Homo sapiens: one gene and its partner. The protein of the gene in region 2 purifies or fractionates together with the protein of the main gene of each other region. This does not show direct contact. Each region holds a gene or a part of one and is shown on either strand. Other genes may lie near its edges.

Region 1 (3,500 bases), on a different chromosome or scaffold from region 2:
GATCTTTTACAATTGAGTTGTTTGAATTCTTTGTATATTTTCATTATTAATCCCTTATTAGTTATATGGTTTGCAGATATTTTCCTGCATTCTGTAGATTGTCACTTTGTTGATTGATTCCTTTGCTGTGCAGAACATTTTTAGTTTGATGTAATCCCATTTGTCTATTTTTTCTTTTGTGGCCTTTGCTTTTGAGGCTTTATTTCCTCAAAATAAGCCAGGCACAGAAAGACAAGTACTGCACGATCTCACTCACATGTGGAATCTGAAAACGCTGATGCCACAGAAGAACAGAGCAGAATGGTGGTTACCAGAGGCTGGGGTGGCTGGCGGAAGGGGAGAGAGGAAGATGTTGGTCAAAGGATACACATTTACAGTTAGATACAAGGGGGAAAGTCCAGAATAGGCAAATATACAGAGACAGAGAGTAGACAGGTGATTGCCTGGGGCCAGAAAGCAGGGGAGAGAGGATCAGTGAAGAACGGGTAGAAAAAGTGAGAATAACTGCTAATGGTTAGGGAGTTTCTTCTCCCTTTTTTTTTTTTTTTTTTTTTTTTGACAAGGTCTCGTTCTGTCACCCAGGCTGGAATGCAGTGGGGCAATCATGGCTTACTGCAGCCTTGCCCTTTTGGGCTTAAGCAATTCTCCCACCTCAGCCTCTCCAGTACCTGGCACTACAGGTGTGCACCATCATGCCTGGCTAAATTTTGGTTGGTTGTTGTTTTGTTTTTTTGAGACGGAGTCTCACTCTGTCGCCCAGGTTGGAGAGCAGTGGCGCGATCTTGGCTCACTGCAACCTCTGTCTCCCAGGTTCAAACGATTCTCCTGTCTCAGCCTCCTGAGTAGCTGGGATTACAGGTGTGCACCACCATGCCCGGCTAATTTTTGTATTTTTAGTGGAGGCAGGGTTTCACCATGTTGGCCAGGCTAGTCTCAAACTCCTTACCTCAAGTGATCCTCCTGCCTCAGCCTCCCAAAGTGTTGGGATTACAGGTGTGAGCCACCGCCTAATTTTTGTGTTTTTTTGTAGAAATAAGGTTTCACCATGTTGCTCAGACTGGTCTCAAACTCCTGAGCTCAGGTGATCCCCCTGCCTGGGCTTCGCAGGGATTATAGGCTAAGCCACCGCACCTGGCCACATTTAAGTCTTTAATTCATTTCGGGTTGATTTTTGTCTATGTTGAGAAGCCAAGGTCTGATATTATTTTTCTGTATGTGTGTATCTAGTTTTCTCAACACCGTTTATTGAAGAACCTATCCTTTTCTCATTGTGTGTTCTTGGCACCTTTGTTAAAAATCAGTTGGCTGCAAATGCATGCATTTATTTCCAGGCTCTATTCTGTTCCATTGGTTTATGTGTCTGTGTTTATGACAATAGTGTGCTGTTTGGGTTACTATATCTCTGTAGTTTTTTTTGTTTTGTTTTGTTTTTGAGACGGAGTCTCACTCTGTCACCCAGGCTGGAGTGCAATGGCGCAATCTTGGATCACTGCAACCTCCGCCTCCCGGGTTCAAGCGATTCTCCTGCCTCAGCCTCCTGAGTAGCTGGGGATTACAGGCGTGCGCCACCACACCCAGCTAATTTTTTTGTTTTTAGCAGAGACGGTGTTTCACCATGTTGGCCAGGCTGGTCTCGAACTCCTGCCCTCAGGTGATCCGCCCACCTCAGCCTCCCAAAGTGCTGGGATTACAGGCGGGAGCCACCATGCCCAGCCTCTGTAGTATATTCTGAAGTCAGGTAGTGTGATGCCTCCAGCCTTGTTCTTTTGCTCAGGATAGCTTTTGCTATTCCAAGTCTTTTGTGGTTCCACACAAATTTTAGGATTTCTTTTTCTATTTGCATGAAGAATATGGTAGGTATTTTGATAGAGACTGCATTGAATCTGTAGATTGCATTGAATCTGTAGATTGCTTTGAATCTGTAGATTGCATTGAACCTGTAGATTGCATTGAATTTGTAGATTGCTTTGGGTACTATCTATTGTTTATTTATTTTTTGAGATGAGTTACCTAGGCTGTTACCCAGGCTGGAGTTCAGTGGTGCAGTCATGGCTCACTGCAGCTTTGATATCCTGGGCTCAAGCGATCCTCCCACTTCAGCCTCCTGAGTGTCTGGGACTACAGGTGTGAGCCACCACGTGCAGCTACTTTTTATTTTATTTCTTTTCTTTTTCTTTTTTCTTTTTTTTTTTGAGACAGAGTTTTGGTCTTGTTGCTCAGGCTAGAGTGCAATGGCGCAATCTTGGCTCACCGCAACCTCTGCCTCCCGTGTTCAAGCAGTTCTCCTGCCTCAGCCTCAAGCTACTCAAGCTGGGATTACAGGCGCCCACTACCACGCCTGGCTAATTTTGTATTTTTAGCAGAGATAGGGTTTCTGCATGGTGGTCAGGCTGGTCTGGAACTCCTGACCTCAAGCGATCTGCCTGCCTTGGCCTCCCAAAGTGCTGGGATTACAGGCATGAGCCATCACGCCCAGCCTTATTTTATTTTTTAGTAGAGACAAGGTCTAGCTGTGTTGCCCAGGCTAGTCTTGAACTCTTGAGCTCAAGTGATCCTCCCACCTCATCCTCACAAAGTGTTGGGATTACAGATGTGAGCAACAGCACCTGGTCTATTAATTCTGTTGTTGCCAGTGTTTTTGGTGTCATATCCAAGAAATCATTGCCAAATCTGATGTCATGAAGCATTTCTCCTGTTTTCTTCTAAGAGTTTTATAGTTTTAGATCCGATGTTTAGGCGTTGATCTGTTTTGAATTAACTTTTCTTTTTTGTGTGTGTGTTTGGTTTTTTTTCGAGACAGATCCTTGCTCTGTCGCCCAGGCTGGAGTGCGGTGGCGCAATCTCGGCTCACTGCAAGCTCCGCCTCCCGGGTTCAAGCGATTCTCCTGCCTCAGCCTCTCTAGGAGCTGGGATTACAGGCCCCCGCCACCACACCCAGCTAATTTTTTGTATTTTTAGTAGAGACGGGATTTCACCGTGTTAGCCAGGATGGTCTCGATCTCTTGACCTTGTGATCTGCCCGACTCGGCCTCCCAAAGTGCTGGGATTACAGGAGTGAGCCACCACGCCAGGCCAAATTAACTTTTCTGTATATTATATAAGGTAATGGTCCAACATAATTCATGTATGTGTGGATATTCAGTTTTCCTAACACAATTTGTTGAAAAGACTATTCTTTTTCCATTGAATGATCTTGACATCATTGTTGAAAATTGTTTGGCCACATATGTGAAGGTTTATGTCTGGGTTCTTTGTTCTGTTTAATTGGCCAGTATGCCTTTCTTTATGCCAGTGCCACACTGTTTCAATTACTGTAGCTTTATGGTAAGTTTTGAAATAAAAAGGAGTGAAGTCTCCAACTTTGTTCATCTTTTTCAAGATTGCTTTGGCTATTCTGGGTCCTTGGAGATTCCTATGAATTTTAAAATGGGTTATTTTTGCAAAAACAAAGTGCTGTTGGAATTTTCAAAGGGATTGCATTGAGTCTTTAGAAGGCTTTG
Region 2 (3,500 bases):
GATGGGGCCACAGAATTCCTTACGGATTTCATCCAGGAAGCGCGGGAAGTTGGCATGCAAGGGGCTTCCTTCCTGGGTGACCGAGATGGCCCAGTCCTTGGCTTCGCCAGTGAAAAAGGAGATCAGAAAGGCCACCCGCTCGGCGCCCCCGGGGAAATGAACCTCATGGTCGGCTATGAAGGTCTCTAGCTGCATCAGGAATTCAGCCAGGTAGACTGGGTCTCCTGAAAAGGGCTCTATCTCAGGCCGCTCCAGCGGTGCCAGAGGGGGTTGCGGGGGCGGTTCCTTTGACGCGGGCGGAGGCAGCGCCGGCGGGGGCGGGATGGGCAGCAGAGGGGGGTCAGCGGGCCCGTCGGGGGTGCTGCGATCCTGGATCACGTTAATCAAAAGATCATCCGAGATACAGTCGGGCTCCGCGCGTGGGGGAGGCCGGCACAAGAAGGGCAGTTCTCCCCCGGGAATGACTTCGATCTCACTGAGCGCGAACTCCAAGTTCTCCTCCGCAAGGACGGGCACTATGGGTACTGGCCAGCGGATGTAGCTGGAGACATTGCCCCGCAAGGAATTAACCTCGGCCAGGGCTCTCCCGAGCTGGAGGCCCAAATTGGCATTCTCCCCGCGAAGGGCATTTAATTCTTCGCGCAGGGCCACATTCGCCATGCGGAGGCTGTTGAGATTTCCTGACGCCTCAGACATCTCGACAAGCCCAGGGGCCCTGGGGCTCCGTGGTGGGGAAAGGGGAACTGGAACTACGGGCGGCCGGAGGAGGCCGAAATGCGGCGGCGGGGCTCGGGAGGGACCGAAGTGCGGCAGCGGGGCACGGGCCAGGCCGGGCCACACCCACCGGGGCGAGCTCGGAGGGCGGCGCTCTGGGCGGAGGGCCCGGCGGCTCGGCCCAGGGCGCGTTACCTCGTCGCCGGGGCCGGAGAGGGCGGGCGGAGGCACGGGGCCCGGAGGCGCCAGGCGGAGGATGCGGGCGACACGGTGGCGGCGGCGACCGCGCGACCGGGCGGGCGGGCGGGCAGGGGCGAGCGGAGCGGGAGGGAGCGGACTGCGGCAGGATCTGTCGAGGAAAAATCTTGCGGCCGGCGATTCCCCGCCTTTTAAGCGCAGCCTCGCACTCCCCCCACCCCACGCAGGGGCGGGCCTTGGGGAACCGCGGGCGCCCACTGGCCGCCGCGCGCCGCTCCCCTCCAGCTCGCCTGCGCCTCTCACTGACTCTCTCCTTCCCTAGCTGCAGCTAACTCGGGTCGGGAAAATGCGACAGCGACTGCCCACTCGAGGTCGTCATGGCGACAGCCAGTGAACGTGTTCCTCTCCTCGGGCAGGCCCCCGAGTGTAGAGGAGCTGCTTCGGGAGGCGCAGCTCAATCTCCAGAGCCTGTTGCAAGGTACCGAGAGGGAGGGGGGCTGCGGCCGGAGCCCAGAAGCGAGATGCGCAGCGGCAGGAGGGAGGCAAAGAAGAAAGAGGACAGGGACCAGCAAGATAAAGACAGAGAGTTTAAAAACAATCGACAAAGCAGTTTCCAGCTTTCACCTTTCAGCCTAATGATTCTGAAAGAGGCTATTTCCAGGGCTGTTTCCCCCCATCCCCAGCCCCTTTTTTCAGCTCAGTAGCCCATGGGGAAACAAGGACAGAGACTGAGGCAGGGCCATAAGTTATGCCATTCACCGAGAGCTGGGTGGGAGACTCCCACAATGTGGGCCTACATTCCCTCCAGCCCCCCTCTTGCCACATCGCCCATGCCTTTGGGATCCTGGCACCAGAAGACAAAGGGGGCATCTGCAGGATCTCCCACTCTGGGCTTCACTCACTCTGCTCTTGCAATAACCCCTGGATAGCTACTGCCTCACCAAAGTAAGCCCAATACACAGCACCCAGAGGTCACCTATTTTGTCCCCCCTAACCAAGCCTGAGCTTCTCGATGTAAAGAATCACATCTTGCTACCCTTAGGTTTCCAGAAGCACCTGGCACAAGGCTGGATTCCCTCCCCACCTGCCAAGAGGTGCTCAGTGGATGTTGAGCATGAAAAGAGGTCTTGTCAGCACTCCTTTATCTATACTAATAAAGGTTAACTCTAATGGCGAATAGAAAACTGCTGATGGGCCACCAACAGGATGACAGCCATAACCCCCACCCCCTACCAGGGCAGTGGTGACCTTGGAAAAGCAAGATGCCAAGGGACACCATGAGCCTTGTGTTCAGATAACAAAGGACTTGCCACACAGAAAAAGAGTCGATGTGCTCTGTGTTGCTACCATGGCAGAATTAGGACCAGTGGGTGGAAACCCAGAAGGAGGCACATTCCACCTCCAGATAAGGAAGAACTTTCTGACACACCTGACAGCCCCAACTGTCCGTGGAAGAAATGAGCTGCCTTGGGAGGGAGGGAGCTCCCCTTCCCTGCAGGTGTGTGCGCTGAGGCTGAAGAAACACCTAGAAGGGCTGCTGAGGAGGGAGTCTGGGCACAGAATGAGGCGTTGGACCAAAGAACCCCAAGAGCAACCCCAAATCTCTGTGATTCTGAGTCTTTGTTCAGTGTACATACAGCATGAATGTCCCTTCTCTACTCTCACTTTCTTCATGTATTCTCATCAAATTCATCACTTCAATCAACCCTATTCAAATCTTGTGCATCCTTACTCACTGATGATGCCGCTGAACTTCTGCCTCTTTTATGCTGTTACCTCCTCCTTCCCTCTCCTTCACCTTAGCCCTCCTAGACCTGACATCACTTACAGCGGGACTAAGGTGCAGGGAACACGGCCCACAAAGGCTCAAGTAAAAGTTCTTGACATCCAAGAAAGAACTCCAGATTGGACTTCCTGGTGTAAATCTCTTCTTGCTTCACACAGGTCATTTCCTTGGTAGGGTCGCAGAAAACCTTAAGAGCTGCAGGGCTTCAAAGAGAGGAACTTGCAGTCCAAAGTAGCAAAAGGTGTCTGCATTCTGAGCCTCTTTTCGTAACTGAGCACTCAAGGTGGGGATCATTGAGATAAGGGCTTGGTCCCCAAACCACCACAGCATGAATTTATTGACTTTCTCTTCTCCTCGATCCTCATGGTCCTGGGAAGCAAGCACTTTTCCATTTCCAAATCCAGTGGCTCAAACACCTGGAAATAGCCTAAAGAAAATGCAAGTCAGGCCTGGCAGCTAGAGCAGGAGTCCTGGCTCATGGCCCTTCCCCGGCCCAGCGCTCGGCCATGGCACCCTAGAGTGTGTGTCTCCACTGTGCTATTTTTCAGAAGAATATGAGGAACAGTACTCGGAGGCCAGACTTGTGGGGCAGACCTTCCGCTCTTCTGATGAGGCCACTAAGCCCACCCCCAACCCAAGGCCCCAGTCTGCCAGGCGTCTGGAGTTTATATTGATGGTGAGTTGCCTCATCCCCCACCTGGGAGAGCCAGCATGCACCCACTGACAAGAGACCTCCAGCTGCTTACTTTACCCACTGGAAGCTGCTCAGCCCTGCTCACCAGCAGAGCTACCCTGAGGCCCC

The links. Proteins that work in one complex are often made in the same cells at the same time.
Region 1: the proteins of NHSL2 (region 2) and CYFIP1 purify together in Homo sapiens (affinity purification with mass spectrometry; 2 studies listed by BioGRID and IntAct, with this or other methods). This does not show direct contact.

What each region holds. Positions count from the first base shown.
Region 1 is NC_000015.10:22,970,369-22,973,868, reverse strand, and holds part of CYFIP1 (cytoplasmic FMR1-interacting protein 1), read left to right. Parts: intron 1-3,500. UniProt on the Homo sapiens protein: Component of the CYFIP1-EIF4E-FMR1 complex which binds to the mRNA cap and mediates translational repression. In the CYFIP1-EIF4E-FMR1 complex this subunit is an adapter between EIF4E and FMR1.
Region 2 is NC_000023.11:72,130,845-72,134,344, forward strand, and holds part of NHSL2 (NHS-like protein 2), read left to right. Parts: coding exon of another isoform or gene 1-696; exon of another isoform or gene 697-1,071; intron 1,072-1,234; coding exon 1,235-1,390; intron 1,391-3,246; coding exon 3,247-3,374; intron 3,375-3,500. Other genes in the region: RTL5 (retrotransposon Gag-like protein 5), read right to left, coding at 1-696.